Linked DNA regions of Homo sapiens: region 1 is linked to region 2. The links come from fine-mapping of genetic effects on gene expression. A gene starts in region 2. The other region holds a variant in brackets. All regions are shown on one strand. Distances are between the middles of the regions. Region 1 has its middle 21 kb from the start of KCNMB3. Region 2 holds the start of KCNMB3 (potassium calcium-activated channel subfamily M regulatory beta subunit 3).

Region 1 (2,919 bases), 20 kb before region 2:
AGAATGAAGTGGTCAGCTGCTGACATGTATATGGACAGTGTGGATGTGACAGCTGGGAACAGGTTGTATTGGGTGTGTTATTGCCTTGGAAACTCAAGTACCATGAACAGCTTTGCTGATGGTGTTGTGGTTTCCTAAAATGGTGAAGAACTTTGGAAATGTCTGAATAAAACAAAGTACAAATTTCTCTCGATTTACATAGTAGATGCATTTTGGGGAAATTCAGTGGATATTGAAAAAGCACAAAAAATACTTCAACACAAGGTATTTTGTACTTCATGTAAAATGGCATTAGGTTTTAACTCAGATCATAATAAGTAGCCCTGTCATCTACATTAATTTGCAGTGGACATGAAATTAATTTCCATCACACTTCGGGCAATTCTTTGTTGTGTGGGACTGCCCTGCAAACTGTAGGACATCTGCCACATGTAGCTCTCCACTCCCTAAGTACCTGGCAGTGCCCTTCCAATCATGGTGACAACCAAGAAACACCCTCACCCACAGATTCCCAAATGCCCACCAGGAGGTGGCACCGTTCCTTTTGAGGCGCCACTAAATATTCCACTAAAGTGGAATATTTGAGTCAAATTGAACTCTACACTATGAGAGGCTCATTAAATGCTTGTAGAATAGAGTGAGCAGGAATCTTGCAGATCCTCACAGCCATCATTTTGAATTTTAATTCACAATGTGGAGAGACTATAGACATAAATAGAAGAGCTATACAGGGATAGCCTAATGGTTTAATCTTTCAAGCCTACCCCAATTTGTTGGAAGTTGCTGCCTTTAGTGGTGAATACAGAATAGTTTTTGCAGTAGTGTCCAGCTTATTCAATCATCCAGGAGCTATTTACTGAGCATCCATGCCAAGCACTATTCCAGGAGCTGGTGATACAGTTATAAATAAAAGACACAGATTCAGGCCTTCATGGAGCTAAAATTTCAAGCTCAGCAGGAGCTAACAAAGGTGTGCGCCATGGGGTCGGGAACATACTATCCATGTATTTGTCTTACCTGAAACAACAGAGTTATGTGAATTACTACTAATCCTCAAGGACTTTCCTGGGATTTTGTTTTATTTTTATTTTTTATTTTTGAGACAGGGCTTCACTCTGTCATCTAGGCTGGAGTGCAGTGGCGCTATCTTGCCTCACTGCAACCTCCACCTCCTGGGTTCAAGTGATTCTCGTGCCTCAGCCTCCCAAGTAGCTGGGACTACAGATGTGTGCCACCACACCTAGCTAATTTTTGTATTTTTAGTAGAGACAGGGTTTTGCCATGTTGGCCAGGCTGGTCTCAGACTCTTGGCCTCAAGTGATCCACCTGCCTCAGCCTCCCAAAATGTTGAGATTACAGGAGTGAGCCCCTGTACCTGGCCTGGGATTTTATTTTTAAAAATTAAGCACTGGGGCCAGGTGTGGTGGCTCACACCTGTAATCCCAGCACTTTGGGAGGCCGAGGC[G/A]GGCGAATCACAAAGTCAGGAGATCGAGACCATCCTGGCTAACACGGTGAAACCCTGTCTCTACTAAACAAAATACAAAAAATTAGCCGGGCGTGGTGGTTGGCGCCTGTAGTCCCAGCTACTCGGGAGGCTGAGGCAGGAGAATGACATGAACTCGGGAGGCAGAGCTTGCAGTGAGCCGAGATCTCGCCACTGCACTCCAGCCTGGGCGACAGAGTGAGACTCTGTCACACATACAAAAAAAATTAAGCACTGGATATAGATTTATTTTTCTATTCTTTGTCTTTTTCTCCTTAGAAAGTGAAACAGAAAAAAAACAAAATAAAATAACTTCTAATTGATTAAGAATTCAGGTTATTTGTGTTCTTATTAATAGGGGTTATTCTATAACATTTAGGAATGCATCAAAATTCATGATCAGATATCACTTGCCAAGAATGGGGGCTTCATCAGATCCGGAATAGAATTTATCTAAAAGTGATCAAGACATGCAGACTTATAAAAAGCTATGAACATCCTGTCTGTATAACAACTTGGCCAGCAACATTCCTGGCGCAAAGGGCTAAGGCTCCTTCAAGCCTTGAGAATAAGACACTTAAAAGAATAAGCCCAAGCTCCTCCTGAGCGAGGAGGCCGAATATTGTCAGTAGAAGCATGGACTTTTGGATGTGATCTGTTCTGGAGCCCCGGACCTAGCCCTTGTTACTTTGTGATTTTTGCACAAGTTCCTCGGACTCTCTGGTCTTCTGTGTCCTCATCTGCTGAATGCGCAAAAAGTTCCTACCTCCTCAAGTTCTGTGTCTGAAGGACATTATGTTCTCATAGCACTGAGCACAATCCCTGGCACATGGTTACTCAGGGCACCCAAGTTATCATTATGTGTCTAGGGAAAGTTGGGTTGGGCATGCAGTTGTTGAATTCTCTTCTTTCTGGGTGAGCGCTGCCTCTCAGCAGCTGATGGGGGAATCCTTGCATTATTGTCACTCCAGGAGAGAAGATACCTGCTTCCTGCAAGCAAACTTACGGTTTCATACACTTTATTGGATCTCAAAGGCAGATCTTTTTTTGTTTTGTTTTGCTTTCTTGAGATGGAGTTTCGCTCTCGTTGCCCAGGCTGGAGTGCAATGGCACGATCTGATCGTGGCTCACTGCAATCTCTGCCTCCTGGGTTCAAGTGATTCTCCTGCGTCAGCCTCCCAAGTATCTGGGATGACAGGCATGCGCCACTATGGCCAGCTAATTTTGTAGTTTTAGTAGAGATGGGTTTCACCATGTTGGTAAGGCTGGTCTCGAACTCCTGACTTCAGGAGATCTACCTGCGTCAGCCTCCTAAAGTGCTGGGATTACGGTGGTGAGCCACCACACCCGGCTTAAAGGCAGATCTTAAAAGCACATTAAATCATCTGCTCTAACTCCCACATTGCACAGAGAAATAAGCTGAGTTCCAAGGAGGC
Region 2 (2,919 bases):
CGGAGGCAGGAGAATGGCTTGAACCCGGGAGACGGAGGTTGCAGTGAGCCGAGATTGCCCCACTGCACTCCAGCCTGGGTGACAGAGGGAGACTCCATCTCAAAAAAAAAAAAAAAAAAGTACAGGTTCAAATTTCATTAAATTTTTTTTCCATGCCCCTTCTCTGGTGGTAGGATGATAGGGGATGAGTAAAATATCAAAGACAACTAAAAATTCCTAAACTAGATCCTCGGGTCCCAAAGAAGTGTTAACCATGGAGTGCCCCACCTTCTGAGGTTGGTGCTTCCTGGCACAGGCTCTTGGAACATTCTGGATTGTCTGACATTCCTTTTACTCGCTTTAGAACCTAAAGATGTTGCTGGGGGAAAAGGGAGCTAGGGAGAGGGAAGGGGAAGGATGTGGGATAAGGCATAAACTATGCTTGTGGGAAAAAAACAACCAGTAATTTCCTTGATGGGGTTTTTGCTTGACTTTAAAATGCAGTAAGCTTTTAGGAAGCTTGATGGAGCCTGTGTTTCTACCATTAGTGCTGCATTTGTTTGGCTTAAGATTTCATTAAGCTTCTTAAAATGGAGATACTTCTGGAACTCAAATGGCTACTGAGCAGGGAATGGCAAATCAGTGACACTGTAGGAAGTGGAGGGATTTTGGCAAACTAGAGAACACACCTTCCACAGGGGCAGCCACTGCTCTGCTGGGCCCGCTGTTCATCTGCAGGGACGTGCATCTTGGGATTATTTCCAAAGTCAGAACTCAGCATTTTTATGAGAAATGTCATGATTTTTAAGGTCTTAACAAGTTATCCCACATTAAAAAAATAATAATAAACCAGGCCGGGTGCAGTGGCTCACGCCTGTAATCCCAACATTTTGGGAGGCTGAGGTGGGTGGATCATGAGGTCAGGCGTTCGAGACCATTATGGCCAACATGGTGAAACACTGTCTCTACTTAAAATACAAAAATTAGCTGGGCATGGTGGCCGGCGCCTGTAATCCCAGCTACTAGGGAGGCTGAGGCAGGAGAATCGCTTGAACCTGGGAGGCGGAGGAGGTTGCAGTGAACTGAGATCGTACCCAGCCTGGGCAACAGTGCGAGGTTCCGTCTCAAAAAAAACCAAAAAACACAAAAACAAAAAACGACAGAGAAGGCCAAACAAAACACATCTGTGGGCTGGATGCCGCCATGCCCACCGGTTTGCGACCTTTGTGTTGGACTCTTCTGTTCACCAGACACCCTGCCCTGCGAGAATGTATCTCATCCTTTGCTGGAGCAGGTTTGCAGGCACAGTGGAGAGAGGAGAGAAGAAATGAAGGGACACTTATGCAGAACCATGAGTGGCCAGAGAGGAGGAGAAGGAGGGTGAGAGGAGCAAAGAAGCCATGACAACTTCATAATTCTGAGTGGACTGGGCAGTGGCCAGAAATTCTGGTGGTGGATATGCTGCCTTTCCAACAGGTGAATATGAAAGAATAAGTCAAACCCTGTTCAGGACGCTGTTAATTCCAAATGTGAACTTTTTGAGTCATTCTTTCCATGTGGAATTCAAAGGAGAATGTAAACAAATTTTCAGGAGGGACGTGCAATATCCCTGAAAGATAACAAAGTTCGTAACACTTATTTACATACAACATTCTCTAGTTATTGATTAAACAGATCTCTACAGACTTGCATGAGGCAACATTTCTTAGGCTTGTTTGCTACAATATCTTTAAAAATACTTGATTACACATCACTTTAGCTTATTTAGATGGACTTTTCACCAAGCTCTGAACTGGGATTTCATTTTGTTGCATTCATCCTGCTCACGAGACACAGGTAGGCAGCAAATGAGATTATCCCTCCAGTCCCCATGGATTGGAAATGTTCCCCCTTCTTTATGAGCTCACTGCAGTATCTCCTTCTCCCTTTCCCCAAAGGACAGCCTTTCCTGCCTCAGGGAAGAAGAGAGAGACAGACTACAGTGATGGAGACCCACTAGATGTGCACAAGAGGCTGCCATCCAGTGCTGGAGAGGACCGAGCCGTGATGCTGGGGTTTGCCATGATGGGCTTCTCAGTCCTAATGTTCTTCTTGCTCGGAACAACCATTCTAAAGCCTTTTATGCTCAGGTAAGAAACAGAGGAAGGAAATCTAGAGTTTCCAATTCAGATAAGATCCAGGCACAGCGGTAAAGGAGGAGAGGCTGGCTTTGGTTTCTCAATCTGTGACTCTCTGCCATGGTCTAGAAAAAGAAAAATACAATTCCTCTTCCGCTGTCAGTGCTGGGGGCAGCTGGGTGTGGAGGAAGAGGTGGCGAGAAGGTCAAAGATATTTCCCTGCACTGCCTCCTCCCATCTCATAATCTATATATACCTCCAAACACGTAATCCACAAATTATAGTTTCTTCATTTAGGTCATAAATCCTCCCCTTAAAATGTTGGTATTCCAAGAGAGAGTTAAACCTTGTATGTGAGCACAATAAAAGTTTTTTGAGTCTGAATTTTTTGAGTTTGACAGTGTCTACCTGGCACATAGTAGTTGCTCAATACATATTAGTTTCCTTCCTTTTAATTAGGTTCTTTATTCAATATATGTAGTGATACAGTTGACCTTTGAACAACATGGGTTTGAACTTCGGGAATCCACTTATAAATGGATTTTCTTCTGTGCCTGCCACCCCTGAGACAGTAAGATCAATCCCTCCTCTTTCTCCTCCTCCTCAGCCTACTCAACATGAAGAGGACAGGGAGAGGACCTTTATGATGATCCACTTCCATTTAGTAAATAGTAAACATGTTTTCTCTTCCTTATGATTTTTTTTCTTCAATTTTTGTTTTAAGTTCCGGGGTACATGTACAGAATGTGCAGGTTTGTTACAAAGGTAAACGTGTGCCATGGTGGTTTGCAGCACAGATCAACCCATCACCTGGGTATTAAGC

The links. PIP is the estimated chance that this variant, and not a neighbour inherited with it, causes the effect.
Region 1: its variant is the best candidate, but not a certain one, in a credible set for the expression of KCNMB3 in B cells (Fairfax 2012, PIP 0.63).

Annotation. Positions count from the first base shown.
Region 1 is chr3:179,270,180-179,273,098 of GRCh38, reverse strand. No RefSeq gene overlaps it. Among named protein-coding and RNA genes, the nearest start is that of KCNMB3, 21 kb to the right of the region's middle. The variant G/A (reference allele first, on the strand shown) is at 1,466.
Region 2 is chr3:179,249,932-179,252,850 of GRCh38, reverse strand. KCNMB3 (potassium calcium-activated channel subfamily M regulatory beta subunit 3) reads left to right here and starts at 1,737. Exons shown (of 3, transcript NM_171830.2): 1 at 1,737-2,108. The coding sequence starts at 1,861.